Linked DNA regions of Homo sapiens. The protein of the gene in region 4 purifies or fractionates together with the protein of the main gene of each other region. This does not show direct contact. Each region holds a gene or a part of one and is shown on either strand. Other genes may lie near its edges.

The links.
Region 1: the proteins of CENPE (region 4) and SVIL purify together in Homo sapiens (affinity purification with mass spectrometry; one large-scale study listed by BioGRID and IntAct). This does not show direct contact.
Region 2: the proteins of CENPE (region 4) and CEP131 purify together in Homo sapiens (affinity purification with mass spectrometry; one large-scale study listed by BioGRID and IntAct). This does not show direct contact.
Region 3: the proteins of CENPE (region 4) and NKAP purify together in Homo sapiens (affinity purification with western blotting; one study listed by BioGRID). This does not show direct contact.
Region 5: the proteins of CENPE (region 4) and OFD1 purify together in Homo sapiens (affinity purification with mass spectrometry; one large-scale study listed by BioGRID and IntAct). This does not show direct contact.

What each region holds. Positions count from the first base shown.
Region 1 is NC_000010.11:29,526,966-29,530,483, forward strand, and holds part of SVIL (supervillin), read right to left. Parts: intron 2,880-3,518; coding exon 2,740-2,879; intron 92-2,739; coding exon 1-91.
Region 2 is NC_000017.11:81,191,953-81,195,470, reverse strand, and holds part of CEP131 (centrosomal protein of 131 kDa), read left to right. Parts: intron 1-498; coding exon 499-601; intron 602-1,343; coding exon 1,344-1,545; intron 1,546-2,627; coding exon 2,628-2,735; intron 2,736-2,877; coding exon 2,878-2,995; intron 2,996-3,078; coding exon 3,079-3,153; intron 3,154-3,518. UniProt on the Homo sapiens protein: Component of centriolar satellites contributing to the building of a complex and dynamic network required to regulate cilia/flagellum formation.
Region 3 is NC_000023.11:119,930,251-119,933,768, reverse strand, and holds part of NKAP (NF-kappa-B-activating protein), read left to right. Parts: intron 1-1,552; coding exon 1,553-1,662; intron 1,663-1,757; coding exon 1,758-1,833; intron 1,834-3,518. UniProt on the Homo sapiens protein: Acts as a transcriptional repressor. Plays a role as a transcriptional corepressor of the Notch-mediated signaling required for T-cell development. Also involved in the TNF and IL-1 induced NF-kappa-B activation.
Region 4 is NC_000004.12:103,191,828-103,195,345, reverse strand, and holds part of CENPE (centromere-associated protein E isoform 1 precursor), read left to right. Parts: intron 1-112; coding exon 113-232; intron 233-661; coding exon 662-743; intron 744-904; coding exon 905-972; intron 973-1,051; coding exon 1,052-1,117; intron 1,118-3,518. UniProt on the Homo sapiens protein: Microtubule plus-end-directed kinetochore motor which plays an important role in chromosome congression, microtubule-kinetochore conjugation and spindle assembly checkpoint activation.
Region 5 is NC_000023.11:13,741,247-13,744,764, forward strand, and holds part of OFD1 (centriole and centriolar satellite protein OFD1), read left to right. Parts: intron 1-3,168; coding exon 3,169-3,273; intron 3,274-3,518. UniProt on the Homo sapiens protein: Component of the centrioles controlling mother and daughter centrioles length. Recruits to the centriole IFT88 and centriole distal appendage-specific proteins including CEP164. Involved in the biogenesis of the cilium, a centriole-associated function.

The DNA.
Region 1 (3,518 bases), on a different chromosome or scaffold from region 4:
AGGCTGCACAGCGCTCCTAGCTACAGTGGGGCTAGGAAGTCTCGCCATTACAGGGTGGGTGCCCCCAGAACACGAAGCGGGGATAGGTTCACTTTAAAAGCAATTGCCAAAGAGGAAACATTCATAAGGAGAGAGAAGAAAAGAAGCATTAAGGACAGCATAGTTTTAAATTCAGAAACGTTAAATCAAAAATTTTAACAGAATATTTTGCTAATTATTTTTGGGGAGAAAAAATCACGAAAGAACTTCAAAAGCAAATACAAACTCAGGAAATAAGAGATAGTGGCTACCCAAAGCAAATGGGGTAAGAATAGGTGTTCAGAGCTGGGAGGATTTACTCTGTCTTGAGAATACATGTCTTGGTGTAAAAAAAATAATAATTCAAAAAAGCAAATATTAGCTATCAAAAAATCAGTAGATTATGTCTGTGTTTTAGAATATTGTTTCCAATCTAATTTTTTTCTTTCTTTTTCTTTTTTGGAGATGGAGTCTGTCTCTGTCACCAGGCTGGAGTGCAGTGGCATGATCTTGGCTCACTGCAAACTCCGCCTCCCGGGGTCAAGTGATTCTCCTGCCTCAGCCTCCTGAGTAGCTGGGATTACAGGCGCGCACCACCACGCCCAGTTAATTTTTGTATTTTTATTAGAGATGAGGTTTCACCATGTTGGCCAGGATGGTCTTGATCTCTTGACCTCGTGATCCACCTGCCTCAGCCTCCCAAAGTGCTGGGATTACAGGTGTAAGCCACTGGGCCCAGCCTTTTTTTTTTTTTTTTTTTTTGACAGAGTCTCACTCTGTCGCCCAGGCTGGAATGCAGTGGCGCGATCTCGGCTCACTGCAGCCTCCACCTCCTGGGTTTAAGCATTTCTCCTGCCTCAGCCTCCCGAGTAGCTGGGATTACAGGCGTGCGCCACCATGCCTGGCCAATATTTTTGTATTTTTTAGTAGGGACGGGGTTTCACCATGTTGGCCAGGCTGGTCTTGAACTCCTGACTTCAGGTGATCCACCCACCTCTGCCTCCCTAAGTGCTGGGATTACAGGTGTGAGCCACTGCACCCGGCCTCAATCTACTTTTTAAAAGTATCAGTGTTCTTATACAATCTATAGGCACATCAAGGTAGATTTATTGAGCCTTAAAATGGGATTAATTTTTCTTATATTTACTGTTTTGCTCCCATGGGTATCTGCCTGTTATTTTACACCAGCCATTCAAATATTTCTTTTTTTAAAAAACAAACTGATTTGCAAAGAGTTCCTAATGAGTGCAAGGATATACTTAGCTACAAATGCACCAAGAAACTGAGGAACAACTCGGGGAGGAACTGTAGGCAGCTGATCTAACAGCAGGTCTACAGAACGGGGCACTGACATAGAGGCCTTTTGGGATGTCAATAACCTAATGGGATGAACTATTTTTTTTTCCAGGAAGGGTGTCTGTGTGTCCAAGGTAAGCACAAAACCAATTAACAACATCAACAACAACAAAACTAGGCTGGGTACAGTGGCTCACGCCTGTAGCTCCAGCACTTTGGGAGGCTGAGGTGGGAGGATCGCTTGAGCCCAGGAGTTTAAGATCAGACTGGGCAACATGGCAAAACCCCATCACCACAAAAAATACAAAAATTAGCCAGGTGTGGTGGTTGGGCCTACAGTCCCAACTACTTGGGAGGCTGAGGTTGGAGGGTCAATTGAGCCCAGGAGGTTGAGGCTGTAATGAGCCAAGATGGCGCACTGCATTCCAGCCTGAGTAACAGAGTGAGACACTGCCTCAAAAAAACAAACAATGCCCCCCGCAAAAATAAGAAAATTTTTCACTTGATTGAAGCAATGATCTCTGAATGAACTACTCTGGGAAATTAATTCTGAATATATTGAAACATATTATTCAAAACAAACTTCCTATTGTTTGGAAAGTTATCAAACTGCAATTTAATTTTTAGAAATTTCTGGCAATTAATCCCAGCACTTTGGGAGGCTGAGGCATGGATCACCTGAGGTCAGGAGTTTGAGACCAGCCTGGCCAACATGGTGAAACCCCGTCTCTACTAAAAATACAAAAATTAGCTGAGTGTGGTGGCACATGCCTGTAATCCCAACTACTCGGGAGGTGGAGGCAGGAGAATCGCTTGAACCCAGGAGGCGGAGGTTGCAGTGAGCCGAGATCATGCCACTGCACTCCGTTCTGGGTGACAGAGCAAGACTCTCTCTCAAAAAAAAAAAAAAAAAAAAAAAAAAAAGAAAAAAAGAAAAGAGATTTCTGGCAATTAAGAACAAAACAAACCTTATCTTTTAGAGGGGCGTACTGGGATATTTATGGATGAAATGGTAAGACCTCTAGTGTTTGCTTGAAAATAGCACAGGAGGAAAGGGGAAATGAATGGCACACGGGCTGAGCATCACCGGCCAGGAGCGGGTGACCGTGGAAGCTGGGGTTTCATCACAGCAATCCACCAAGTTTCATGTTTCTATTTTCCGTTGTCAAAGAGATTTTTAAAATATCAATATGCAGAGACAGAAACAAAATAGAACAAAAACTCCTTTCAAGTTTTTCTAGAAGATACACATCCCATTACAAAGTTTAGAGAGACCACAGTAAACAAAATCCCTTAGTACTAACTTCTCTGTGGCTTCTAGCTAAATCACCTCCCCAATGCCTCATTTTCATTGAACACTCTTTAAATGTATTTTTTTAAAAAAAGACACTATAGACAAGGCTGAGAAGTCCTGTGGGCACTTACGTGGCTGCGATGACCACCTCTTCAGTGGTGATGGGCTGGGTGAGGGACCTGTCCTGCAGACGGCGTAGCCTCTGCTCCACAGCTGTGTTTCTTGAGCGTCGCTTTGGAACATTTTGTTCATCAAAAGATTTTTCCATCTCCTAAGATTAGAAGTATTGTGGAACCCTTATAAATTCAAGGAAAGAGCTGGGCACGGTGGCTCACGCCTGTAATCCCAGCACTTTGGGAGGCTAAGGAGGGAAGATTGCTGGAGGCCAAGAGTTCAAGACCAGCCTGGGCAACAAAGTGAGACCCCCTCATCTCTACAAAAAATGCATAAATTAGCCAGGCATGCTGGCACAGGCCTGTAGTCCCAGCTACTTGGGAGGCTGAGGTGGGAACATCACTTGAGCCTGGGAAGTTGAGGCTGCAGTGAGCTATGATCACATTGCTGCACTCAACCCTGAGTGAGAGAGTGAGACCCTATCTCTAAAAAAAAATTAAAAATAACAAAGAAATTCAAGGAAAGGAAATGGGGGTAGTAAAAATTCTTCACTTTGTTCTCCTACAGGACCTACAGGAGGGGTCACTAATGAGCACCTCGTATTGTTGTCAGAAGTGTACACTCATGCTGTGTCCATGAGGTGGCCACAACCAGCCAAAGATTAGGAAGAGAACAACAGGTGGGCCAGAGGCAGGAGGGCCTTAGCATGCCCAGAGGTGCATGAAGTAGGCTGGGTCCACAAGATTCCCCCTCCCTAAGGCTTACAATTTTTATTTTTTTTGAGATGGGGGTCTCA
Region 2 (3,518 bases), on a different chromosome or scaffold from region 4:
TTGACTCCCCGCCCCTTCCCGCTGTGTGAGCTCCCTGGGGGCCTCAGCCTCCCTGGCTATGCTTCCCACCAGCTTGGGCAGTGATGGTCCCGAGCCCAGGTTCTGGAGTGGGGCTTGGCACTGGCATTTTAAAATCCCTGCACGTGACTGTGGCTGACAGCCGGGGTTGAGGACTGCCAGTCCCATGGAAGAATGCAGGCTCTGGGGCCGTCCCGACAGGCAGCAGCACCCCTCTCTGGGGCAAGGCCTCTGCAGGCTGATGGCTGCCCTCCCATGTCTCAGGCCACCAAGGTGTGTGGCAGGGTGGGCCTGGGCCTCCAGCCTGGCCCCGGGCGCTGGGGAGGGCAGCAGTGGCTCTGTCTCGGGGCAGCACACCCAACCATGAGTGCCGGCCTTGTGCTGGTGGACCTGGAAGCCCGGCCCTGACTGTGCCCACAGGGTGGCAAAGGGACGGGGGTGTCCTTCGTGTCGTTTCCTCCTGCCCTGTTCTGCTCGTAGGAGATTAAAAAACTCAAAGAATTAATGAGCGCCACCGAGAAAGCCCGCCGGGAGAAGTGGATCAGTGAGAAAACCAAGAAGATCAAGGAGGTCACTGTCCGAGGTGGGCCCTCCCCTCCCATGAGCCGGCCAGGTGTGGGGTGGGTGCTGCGGCCAGGGCTTCTTTTGAGAGAGCCATAACTTCAGGCATTCATGTAGTCCGAGACCTTCCTGGGCAGAGGTGAACACTCATGCCCCAACCACCCCCGTCACGGCCTCCGCTGCGGCTTCTGCCGTGACCCGGGGGGCAGGTGGGCTCCACACAGGAGCCTGGCCCAGCCCCCAGCATCTAGGCAGTTGCCTGAAACGAGGGGGCTCAGTGCCTCACTTCCTCAGGGTTGGGCTAGGGGAGATTGGGAGTTTGTGGACGACTGTGGCACGTGGGCCCTGCCACGGGAAGCAGAGTGAGCCACAGGAGGAGGCAGGGGCAGGCAGGCGGATGGGGCAGGAGGCTGGTGGGTGTTGTGGTCTGAAGGGGCCTCGGACCCTTGGGTGATGTGCAGGGCTCCCCGAGGCCTGGTCCTCTCGCTCTGGACACCTGCCAGGGTGCCTGGGAGCCGTCAGTGGTAGCACCAGGAGTGTCAGGAGCCCTGAGCCCCACAGGCTGGGAGAGGCGCCGTGGCCCTGTGGGGGTCTCTTCCCCACCTCGTGGGCGTCAAGACTCAGCTGTGCTTCGGGTTGGATCCAAGGAGGCCCTGGGTGGGCGGGGTCCCCTCTGGGCCTGAGACAGGCTGGTCTTGTGCCAGGGTTGGACTTCCCGGGCCCACCCTAGCTGGACGTGGCCCTAGCTGGTGCCCCGCCCCCAGGTCTGGAGCCCGAGATCCAGAAGCTGATTGCAAGGCACAAGCAGGAAGTGCGGAGGCTCAAGAGCCTGCACGAGGCGGAGCTGCTGCAGTCGGATGAGCGGGCCTCGCAGCGCTGCCTGCGCCAGGCCGAGGAGCTGCGGGAGCAGCTGGAGCGGGAGAAGGAGGCGCTGGGCCAGCAGGAGCGCGAACGTGCTCGGCAGCGGTGGGTGGTGGCCCCAGGCCGGTGGGGCCAGGACCCTCAGGGCGGGGAGTCGGAATCCTCGAAGGCTGGAGTGGAGTTCCCATGTAGAGGTGGGCGAGGGTCTTAGTGCAGCATGCAGGGAGGACGCAGGGCCCTTGGCCCTGGAGTGGCCCTTGGGGGCCCAGCCTCAGCCGGGCCAGTGTCCTCGGGCTTGTGTCTGCAGTTCATGCCCGCCGAGGTCTGCAGGTTCTGCATGGGTGCACGGGTGTTTTCCCAGGGTCAGGGCTGGGAACCCCCACCAGACATCCACTCTTTCACAACTGGCCCCAGAGCAGCAACCCGTGGATAGGCGGCCTCGAGGCCCCTCCAGCTCTGACCTTGGGGCCCAGGGACGGTCTCTCTCATTCACTCCCTTGGCCTGGGGTCTGAGGGGTGACTGCTGCTCTTGCGTCCTGAGCCCTGGGGGCTGGGGACGTGCCCAGTGGTGGTCAGGATCTGCGGGCCACAGGGGGCAGTGGCAGCCCCTCCTGCACTGTCTGCGCCACCAGGACAGCCTGGAAGCCACCCTCTCCTATCCACCCTGTTGCCTGTCGTGGCTGGTCCTCCCCAGATGCAGCTTGGCTGGTCCCCCAGTCTCTCCTCGAAGGTGGGGTCAGGACGAGGCCCTGGCGCGAGCTTGCTCAGGTCACGGAGCCAGGCACCTGGCACCCTCAGGCCGGAGGCAGGGGAGGTGGATAAGGCCCCACGAGGCACCTGCCTCCCGCCCTCCATGCCCGTGGGGCAATGCTGAACAGGGTGAGGCCGGCACACGGGCTGAGGGAAAAGGGGGCCTGGACGCGGCTCCACAGCCACTTCCCAAAGTGCCACGAGGGCCTGGAGCTCAGGGAATTGCTGCGCTTGGCTGATGGGCAAGTTCCTCGTGGCCTTGCCTGCCCCCGGGCGGTGGCTTTGAGGGGCCTTGACTGCCGAGGGGGAGGGGCAGGGCCCCGGAGGGCTGCTCTCCAGCTGTGAGTCAGGCCTGTGGTCGGCCCGTGCCCCTGCGGTGGGTGGGTCCTGGGACCGCCCGTCCCGGCCCCCGAGAGCCAGTCCTGACCGTCCCGCAGGTTCCAGCAGCACCTGGAGCAGGAGCAGTGGGCGCTGCAGCAGCAACGGCAGCGGCTGTACAGTGAGGTGGCTGAGGAGAGGGAGCGGCTGGGCCAGCAGGCAGCCAGGTGCCGCCCGGGGGCACCACGCCCTCTCCCAGGGACCCCTCGCTGGCTGACCCCTCCCCCCCGCCCCCTCACCCGCTGACCTCTCCCATCCCTGACTCCTTACTCGATGACCCCTCACCTGCTGACTCCTCCCTGGCCGCAGGCAGCGGGCGGAGCTGGAAGAGCTGAGGCAGCAGCTGGAGGAGAGCAGCTCTGCACTGACCCGAGCCCTGAGGGCTGAGTTTGAGAAGGGCAGGGAGGAGCAGGAGCGCCGGCACCAGGTCTACCACCGGAGGGCTGTGCTGGGCCTGGCCAGGGGGCTGCACGGGGTGGGACTGACTGGCCTCTTATGTCCGCCCCCCAGATGGAGCTGAATACCCTGAAGCAGCAGCTGGAGCTGGAGAGGCAGGCGTGGGAGGCCGGCCGCACCAGGAAGGAGGTGGGGGCCTGGGCACCCAGGTGGGCAGGGGTTGGGGGCTGCCCTGCGTGGGCAGGAGTTGGGGGCTGCCCCAGGTGGGTTTTGCTGCTGCTGTGGCATCCTGGGGGCTCGTTTCTGGGAGTCACATCTGGCTGCTTGGGGTTGTTGTCTGAACTGACGCTGAGTGTGTTGCTTTCAGCCCATCTTTTGCGTGGGCTCTGGAAGGATCAAGGGTGCCTGGAGCGCATCCTCTGTGGTCCGAGAACAGGCGTTGCCCCTCTCGCTAGGGGCTGCTACACCCCTGCGCCCCACGACCAGCCCACTGACACTCAGATGTACCGAGAGGGACACGCACAACAGGGGCTCCCCCCTTAGCCTCTGGGGCC
Region 3 (3,518 bases), on a different chromosome or scaffold from region 4:
GGCAGGAGGATCGCTTGAGCCCAGGAGTTCAATACCAGCCTGGGCAACATAGCGAGATCCTGTCTCTATATTTAAAAAAAAAACAAAAACCCATAACCAGAATGCTATTATTGTGCCTAAAACATTTAATAATAATTCCTCTATTCTCAGCAGTTTTTTCTGTAGTTTATTCCAATCAGGATCCAAATAATGTCCCTAAATTGCAGTGACCGTATTCTTATGGTATTCTTTGGCATGTTCTGTCCTCTGTATTTCCAATAGATTAATAGGTCTAGAGGCCTGAGAAGGCTCAGATTTGAGTTGGGGCAAGAATACTTCATAAGTGGTGCTGTTTACTGTCAGGAGGCAAATAATGTCTGGTTGTCACTTTTTGTCATATTAACAGCCATTGATGGTCATTATCTCGATCCATTATTTCATTAGGGGTTGTAAAATGGTGATAGTCTAATCCTGGCTTTATCCTTCATTTATTAGGCAGAATGATTCTATAAGAGAAACTTACCCTCATCAACTATTTAGATACCCTGAAATATAGTTTATATTGTAAGAGCAGGATAATTGCTTGATTTTTTTTGTTTTAATGACTTTTCAAATAATGAATTGGATTTTTAAAAAGTATTATTAACCCAAGGATTTAAACATATTTGACATATTTTAATCCATTACACATAAAATTATTCATAATGTTCAAATTGTTGGGACTTTTTAGGCTGTTTTATTTCTGTTGTCTTTCTACAACATCAGAACTGTATTTCATTGTTCCCTTTAGTGAATTTTTTTTTTTTTGAGACCGTGTCTCACCCTGTCACCCAGGCTGGAATGCAGTGGCACGATCACAGCTCACTACAACCTCAACCTTCCAGGATCAAGCCATCCTCCCACCTCTGCCCCCACTTTCCCCATACCTGGGACTACAGGCGTGTGCCACCACACCTGGCTAATTTTTGTATTTTTTGTAGAGACACGGTTTCGTCATGTTGCCCAGGGCTAGTTTCTAACCCCTGGGCTCAAGTGACCCACCCGCCTCAGTCTTCCAATGTGCTGGGATTACAGGGGTGAAACACTACACCCAGCCTCCTTTAGTGATAATTTTTATAGCAAAAGATGATTTGGTTAAATAAGTTAGAATACTTTTTAAAAAAATTCTTAAGAGGCAGTGTCTCGCTCTGTTGCCCAGACTGGAGTGCAGTGGGCTAATCATAGCTCATTGCAGCCTCGAACTCCTGGGCTCAAGTGATCCTCCCGCCTCAGCCTCCTGAATAGCTTAGACTACAGATGTGTGCCATCACACCCAGCTACTTTTTTTTTTTTTTAATAGAGACGGGGTCTTGCTCTGTTTCCCAGGTTCAGTTAGAAGCAGATTTTTTTAAGTAAAATTATCTTGTAAGTTTGAATAAGCTGGGAATTCAGATCATTTTATTGTCACCTTTCTTTGCCTTGAAAAATTAAGATGTATAGTCACCAGTTCAAAATTTAAAAAGAAAAGAAAAATTAAGATGCCCTCTAACATAGGAAGATTAAGTGAATTTGTATCAAATTAAAATCCCTATAGGAAGAAATATAAGAAAAAGAGGTCTAAGAAGAGCAGAAAAGAGTCCAGTGATTCAAGCTCTAAAGAATCCCAAGAAGAGTTTCTGGAAAATCCCTGGAAGGATCGAACAAGTAGGTTCTTCTGATAGACTAACTCAGAACAGATGAAACATTAAAGTAACCAATTAGTCAGAATGTGAATGTGTTTCTTAATATCTTTCATGCAGAGGCTGAAGAACCATCAGATTTAATTGGCCCAGAGGCTCCAAAAACACTTACCTCTCAAGATGATAAACCTTTGAAGTAAGCAGCAGTGTGTTTATAATATCTAAAGTACCTACCAAAAAGTCTGGTTCTAACTTACCTTGCCAAGCTTATCTGACTCTATTCCCTTATTTCTACTCCAGGTTCCAGCTGAGCTGGACTACTAAATATTCCCTGGGCTTAATGTGCACTTTGCAACTTTTATGCCATGTTCAGCTTATTTCTTCATCCAGTATGCCTTCCCTTCTTTTCCCTGCCCTCTGTTTTCTTCCCTATCGCCAGTTTCTTCCTGTTAAAATCCTTACTATCCTTCGAAGCCCTTTTCAAAAGGAGATGCATATGCTGATTCCCAATACTTCCCCTCCACAAGTAGGTGTGATTTCTGTTTCTCTTTGATCCTCACAGAATTTTTTATTCCTTTTTTTCTCTTTTTTCTTTTTTTACCAGCAGAATTTTTTTTTCTTTTTGTGAGACGGAGTCTCGCTCTGTTGCCCAGGCTGGAGTTTAGTGGCGTGATCTTGGCTCACTGCAACCTCTGCCTCCCAGGTTCAAGCGATTCTCCTGCCTCAGCCTCCTGAGTAACTGGGATTACAGGCACGCGCCACCACACTCAGCTAATTTTTTTTTGTATTTTCAGTAGAGATACGGTTTTACCATGTTGGTCAGGCTGGTCTCAAATTCCTGACCTCATGATCCACCTGCCTCAGCCTCCCAAAGTGCTGGGATTACAGGCGTGAGCCACCGCACCTGGTCTAGAATTTTTTTTTTGTTTGTTTTGTTTTGTTTTTTTGAGATGGAGTCTCACTCTGTCTCCCAGGCTGAAGCACAGTGGTGTGATTGAGTTTCACTCTGTTGCCCAGGCTGGAGTGCAGTGGCATGATCTTGGCTCACTGCAACCTCCACCTCCCAGATTCAAGTGATTCTCCTGCCTCAGCCTCCCAAGTAGCCAGGATTACAGGCGCCTGCCGCCACGCCCGGACTAATTTTTGTATTTTTAGTAGAGCTGGGGTTTCGCCATGTTGGCCAGTATGGTCTCGAACTCCTGATCTCAAGTGATCTGCCCGCCTCAACCTCCAAAAATGCTGAGATTACAGGCGTCAGCCACTGCACCCAGCCTACTTTGTTTTTTTTTTTTGTTTTGTTTTGTTTTGTTTTTTGAGACAAAGCCTTACTCTGTCGCCCAGGCTGGAGTGCAGTGACACGATCTCGGCTCACTGCAACCTCTGCCTCCCAGGTTCAAGTGATTCTCCTGCCTCAGCCTCCTGAGTAGCTGGGACTACAAGCATGCACCACCATGCCCGGCTAATTTTGTATTTTTAGTAGAGACGGGGTTTCGCTATGTTGGCCAGGCTGCTCTCAAGCTCCTGATCTCAGGTGATCCTCCCGCCTCAGCCTCCCAAAGTGTTCAGATTGTAGGCGTGAGCCACTGTGCCTGGCATACTTTGGATTTTTTAAGGGAAAAAGGGAAAGGGAATCAGCTGGAGCCAGAACCAGTAATGACAATACCTGTAGGGATAAATTAATCCATAATTGTAAACTGTGAATCTATACTCACAGCAGTTCTTTTCTTTCAAAATATTTCTGCATTTCTGGGTTAGTTGTATAGGTCATAGTGCAATGCAATGTTTAATACACTAATTAGGATAAAGCAATTCACATTGAGCTTCCTAGCACACTACTGCTGAGCACTGTTATTCCTACTCTTGTTTGAGAGAAAATGTGGG
Region 4 (3,518 bases):
TTTCTTAGTTTGTTTTACATACATTTTACCTCTTTAAGCACATGAGCATTTAGCATTAGGTTTTCACAATTGGATGCTTCCTGGTGTTTTTATATAATTTTTTTTCTTCTAGTTTCCTGATAGGGAATTTCTCTTACGTGTATCTTACATGGAAATATACAATGAAACCATTACAGATTTACTCTGTGGCACTCAAAAAATGAAACCTTTAATTATTCGAGAAGATGTCAATGTGAGTAGCAGACTTAAGGGAGCTTTAAAATTGACTGACTTATTGAGATTATTGTTCTTGAATGTTTACCTTTAATTTCTATAGTTTTTAAAGTGTCTCCTATTTCTATAGTATGTGAGGGTTTTTTTGAAGTATTTATATTCATCTTTTAAACAATATGAATAGTTTTAAAATACTGACAGCTCTAATATTTTGGTTTAAGTGTAAAAATAGCAAGTTGGAAGTATCAGGTTAGAATTTGTTGTGCTTTGGTATGTGAAATAAATTGTGGGTATTCATAGAATTATTTGTTACATTCCTACAGAATTATGGTTCCATTTGCCACTTTTAACTTTCACAAATGAATTCTATAATAGTTTGCACCTTCTTTTGAAAAGCAAACTTGTGACTTCTATTTCTCTAATCTTTCCATAATTAAACTTGTTTCAGAGGAATGTGTATGTTGCTGATCTCACAGAAGAAGTTGTATATACATCAGAAATGGCTTTGAAATGGATTACAAAGGGAGAAAGTAAGACTTTATGCTGTATTTCTTTAGAACACTTGTAAAAACTATCTTTTCAATCAAGCACGTTTGGACCTCAAATCATACTTTTTTAAGTTAAAATAAAAATTATTGTGTTTCTATGGATTTTATTATATATGCAGCTGAAATATAACTCATTTTTACAGAGAGCAGGCATTATGGAGAAACAAAAATGAATCAAAGAAGCAGTCGTTCTCATACCATCTTTAGGATGGTAGGTAATTCTATCTATCTGTTAGATCTTTCCAAGTAAGAATGCACTAATTTTTCTACAGCTTGCCTTTTCTATCTAGATTTTGGAAAGCAGAGAGAAGGGTGAACCTTCTAATTGTGAAGGATCTGTTAAGGTATCCCATTTGGTGAGTATTAATGAACCATAATAATGTACTGTATGGGCCAAAACAAAATTTAATTTAGTTGCTGGATGTTTGGTTTAATAAGAACTGTTAACTAAACTAAATGTGGGAGGAAATCTACAAATTGTCTGCTTAGTCTTGTCAGTATCATCAAATTCCTAGCTAAAATGTCGTAGGAAAAATTCAGAGGATCTTTCTTCCTGTTATGTCATGGTTGCCATCTCCTAAAATTTAAATGTCAGGGCTATAGGGTTATAGGAATTGATGTTTTTTCTAACCACTAATGCAGTAGAATTTTTTTCTATACACATTTAACACTTTAGATCATCTTAGAATTTGAGGGTCTTTTTGTAAAATCTCAGCCAATGTAATTTAGACTTATGTGATCAACAAAAATCTAGGTTGGATGGTTAAAAAGTAATCACATTACTTTAGGTTTTACTTAAGTACAACAATAAAATATATTTTGTATTGTAAACGTAGTACTTTAGACTGTAAATCCATTGAGGAGTGATACTGCATTCATCCTGGTAGCCCCAACACATTATACCTATTTTATGTCTAATATAGATTTGCTGAATAAGCGAATATATGCATTATGCAAACATTCCTATATTCCACATTAGTAAACCTTCACTTCCTTCTTTCCACACTAAATTATTGCTGTTTCTTTCTTGCTCCTTTTCTATCTTTTACCATATTGCTTTATTCTGCATTTTTAGGGCCTAAATTCTTTAGCTTGATGTGGGATATGATTTAAGATTATTTGATTAGAAAACTTCAGGGAAAAAAGCAATCTATAATATGTTTATTCATTTTCAGATTTTATAAAATTAGATTATTAATTACTTAATATTCAATCCTAATTTCACCTTAGCTATTTTGCTATAAAATTGTATAACTTATTTTAGTAGACTTTAATCTTGTTTTAATTTAACAATAAAAAACCAAACCCTAACCTCTTTAGTTTTCTCATCCAAGACTGTGATATTTCATATAATTTTAACTTTTAATAATTTAGCTTTAATACTCTTGGCATATTCAGTGATCTACTTGATGATTTTCCTCATGTTACGTGATGCTCTGTCATTTGTGTTCCATCTGTTCCAACCCTCCAGCCTACCCACTTACTCTAAGAATCTTCTTGGAAAGAAGTCTCTAAAGAGTCATCTCTGTCTCTTTAGAGGTGGCTCTTTTCTGATTATCTCCTGGCCTTGGTGGGATGATAATATCCAGTTTCTCTTAGCTGTACTCCTCTGTTTTCTACCCTGGCTTCTTTTTCCCTACCCTCCTAAAAAAATAATTAAAAAAAAAAAAACTTGGAGGTATTCTGTGACGTTTCTTACTCAAGTTCTTGCTCTCAAATGTTCTGTCATCATTTCCATGTTGATGACTGCCAAATATTTTACCTATAGTCTCTGAATTCTAATTCATGTCTTCCTAAAGATGGTTATAATTGTGTCCCATCATTATCTCAAACTTTAATATGTCTAAAACGAAACTATTTTCTTCCTACCATAGTGAATATTCCTTATTTCCAGTAAAACCAGCATTATCCTAGCTGCCTAAGCTGGAAACCTAAGTCAATTTTGACTCATCTTTTTCTGCCTTTCTCTTTGTCCACTTGTCCCATTTCTTACTGATCCTACCTTTAAACATTTCCATGGGTGCTACACTCATTTACTTTCTCATCTCTCTTGAATTACTATGTCAGTCTCCTGGAACCTTGTCTCCATGACCCTTGTCTTTGTTTCTTGAAGTCATCATAAGGATTTCGAATATACTAACCATTGCTTTTGTATATCACTTCCTGGGGCAAGATTTGGCCACTCTTAACCAATCTAACTTTATTTCCTTCTGCTCTACATGAACTCCTCCCTCATAGATTGGGCCTCTGAGTATCTTTGAATATGAATGCTTGTTCTCATCTTTAACCTTCACTCATGCTGCCTTCATTACCACTTTGCCCTTTTATTATGTATCTGTGTCATCTGTAGTGGACACTGTGCAAGAAAAATTAGCCTCCTTAACTGGTAATACATATTTACCTGCCTAGTCTCAAAAATCTCCACAGAGAGAAATAACGTAAAGCTTTGACTTTCTTTCAAATCACTCACAATATTTACTAAGTTGTTATTGTCTTCTGAGCATGGTGTTGGGCTCTGAGATTAAAAAAACAATAAACAAGACACCCCTTCACTGCTTCTCTTACAAGCAGTCTCCTCTGCCACCTCCCTAACCCAAGCTGGTATTATCTCTCACCGAGATTCCTGCCCCAGCTGCCTGATGGGGCTGCCTGCAGCTGCTCTTGCCCCTTCCCAATCCATCCTCCACCCAGTAGTCATAGTGGATCCATTGTGAGAGTCATTGCTGAGCTTTATGCAAGGTTCTCTTTTTTTTTCCA
Region 5 (3,518 bases), on a different chromosome or scaffold from region 4:
GGAAGCCAGAAAAACTATGAGTAGCAGATAGGTCAGGCATCCTAGTGCCAAAATTTGGATAGAACTCTTAGCTAACAAAATAGCTCCTGGTAAGATAAAATTTTTTTAAAAATTGGTGTCTTCTAATTAAGTAACAGAAAACATGTAGGAAGATATTGTGTACTTAACCGTTGTCTGTCCCCTGACTCAGACCTATGGTCTTATCCTACCATATCTATGCTCAGGGGGTGCTAAGCTGTTGAATGGCCTTGGTACTTTTCCTCCTAGATTCTAGTCACCCATTCTTCCCACTGCTAATTTTCCTTTCAGAGATAATGATATCTGTTATGCGTGTCTGTGTGAAGAGACCACCAAACAGGCTTTGTGTGAGGAACAAGGCTGTTTATTCACTTGGGTGCAAGTGGGTTGAGTCCGAAAAGAGAGTCAGTGAAGGGAGATAGGAGAGGGGCAGCTTTATAGGGCTTGAGTAGGCAGTGGAAAGTTACAGTTAAAGGTGGTTATTTATTGTTAGCAGGGGAGGGGGTCCCAAGGTGCATGGTGGAGAGATCTTGGGACTCATTGTCCAGAAGAAGAATGTCACAAGGTCGATTGATCAGTTGGGGCAGGGCAGAACAAGTCATAATGGTGGAATGTCGTAAGGTTGGTCAGTCAGTTAAGGCAGGAGCTGTTTCACTTCTGTGGTTTTTTAGCTGGCTCCTGCAGGCCATCTGGACGTATATATGCAGGTTACGGGGGTTACAATGGCTGAGCTTCGGCTCAGAGGCCTGACAATATCCAGAAAATGATGTGCACAAAATTTGGATGAGGGAAGAAAATTTGGACATCGGCCCTTTGCTTTTTGGAAGTAAAAATTCTTATCTGCAATTGGCAAAAGAATAAGACATATACATCAATGGGGACAGAATTAGGAAGTCCAGAAATACATCCACACAAATATAGTCAATTGATTTTTTTTTTAACAAAGGTGCAAAGGCAATTCAATAGAGGAAAGATAGTCTTTTCAACAAGTGGTGCTGTAACAGTTGGATATTCATATGCGCAAAAATGAACCTAGACACAGATCTTATTTATTATACCTTACACAAAAACTAACTCAAAATGAACCATAGACCTAAATGTAAAATGCAAAACTATAAAACTTCCAGATGAGAACAGTAGAAAGTCTGTGATCTTGGGTTTCGTGATGAGATGTAACACCAAGAGCAAGATACATGAAAGAAAAAAGTAGATCAGTTAGACTTTATTAAAATTAAAAACATCTCTGTGAAAGACACTGTTCTTTTTGTTTTGTTTTTGAGACGGAGTTTCACTCTGCCACCCAGGCTGGAGTGCAGTGGCGTGACCTCGGCTCACTGCAGCCTCTGCCTCCTGGGTTCAAGTGATTCTCCTGTCTCAGCCTCCTGAGTAGCTGGAACTACAGGCGCCTGCCACCACGCCTGGCTAATTTTTTTGTGTTTTCAATAGAGATGGGGTTCACCATGTTGATCAGGCTGGTCTCGATCCCCTGACCTCAGGTGATCGCCTGCCTCAGCCTCCCAGAGTGCTGGGATGACAAGCGTGAGCCACTGTACCCTGCCAAAAGACGCTGTTAAGAGAATGAAAGACCCAGTGTCGAAACCCATAGAGCTTTACGTCATCAAGAGTGAACCTTAATGTTTGCAAATTTAGGTCAGGTGATCCCAGGATGGTATGCAGACTGTGACAAAATCTAATCCCCTTCCTGAAGGGAGTGGGGGTGGGGGAAAAGGTGCTGAGCTAACTACTGTTTTTAGTTCCAAGAAACTAAACATTTCTTAAGTAATTTATGCTTGTGGTTTAAAACAGTTTCAAACTATTCAGAAGGATATAAAGTGAAAGCAAAGTAGCAGTTTCTGCCCATGTTCTCTAATCTCACGCTCCACTGATAACTAGAATTAACAGTTTCACTCCACTGATAACTAGAATTAACAGTTTCTTGTTTATCTTCTAGAATTGTTTGAGGTTAAAACTATGTATTTGTAATTAAAACACAATCAATTGGGATTATATCGTAGATACTGTATGCAATTTGCTTTTTTTAATCCACCAATGTATCTTTCTGTAGCAGTATAGACTAATTATTTTTAAATAATGTATTTAACCCCCTATTGATGGAGATCTGGTTGTTTTATTGTTTGCTTTTTGCCATTACAGGTAACCTATGTGCAGTGTGCACCCTTTGTGCCCTTGTGAAAGTATACCTGTGTAAATTCATAGAAGTGGAATGACTAGATTAAAGGGCACATGCATTTCGAATATATATAAGCACTGACAAATTTCTCTTCCAAGTGAATGAGTATAGCTATATATCCACTCCCTTGCCAACACTTAGCATTATACAAGTTTTAATCTTAGCAGTGTTATAGGGAAAATAATGGTTTCTCTGTTGTATTAATTTGCATTTATGATTTTGTTCATGTTTATTCAGCATCTAAAAATTGTGTTCATCTTTGACAATGTAGTTTTTTCTGCAAACTACCCATGTTTTTCCCCATTTTTCTGATTTTTTTTTTTTAAACTGATTTGTAAGAGTTCTTTGATGTTATGAAAATGTCATCACTTTAGTCTTGGTTATGCCTCCATATTATTGCAACTATTTTTCCCAGTGTGTTATTTTTTTATTTTATGCCATATGTAAGTTTTCAGTTTTTATGTAGTTAGATTGATAAATATTTCTCCTTATTCCTTCCAGGTTCTGTATCATGCTTGGGAAGGCCTTTTCTCAGATTTATTAAAAGATATGACTGGGCACAGTGGCTCATGCTTGTGATCCCAGCACTTTGGGAGGCCCAGGCAGGAGGATTGCTTGAGGCCATGAGTTTGAGACTAGCCTGGGCAACATAGCAAGACCCTGTTTATACAAAAAGTAAAATTAGCTGGGCGTGGTGGGTGGTGGTGTGCACCTCTAGTCCCAGCTACTTGGGAGACTGATGTAGGAGGATTGCTTGAGCCCAGGAGGTCGAGGCCGCAGTGAGCCATGATTACACCACTGCACTCCAGCCTGGGTGACAGAGCAAGACTTTTGTCTCTAAAAAAAAGGAAAGATATATAATGTAAAAAATGATAATGTCCTAAAACTAAGATTGTAAAAACAGTGACTGAGCAGTGGTTGAAAGTTCTGAAACAAAACTGTATGCATATGTTTTTTAGGTTTTCTTATGCATTTTTTAAAAGAATTGGCAGAATATCATCAAGCTAAAGAGAGTTGTAATATGGAAACTCAGACAAGTTCGACATTTAACAGAGATTCTCTGGGTAATTATAGCCTTCTTTCTTAATTTCAGTTCTGCTGTTTTCATTTTGAATGAAGGAAATTATCTGATTTACCATATTGTGTGATTGCTCCTTGAACTGGAGGGATGCAGCCGGCAGGCAACAAGGGAATTCATTTCTGGAATCATCTTGGGGGACCAGGAAGTGCTCTCCAGTGTCATTCCCTAGCCTCATGAATGCCAGGGCTACACTGGCCAAATCATGCAGGGATTCAAAGGCCCATATTC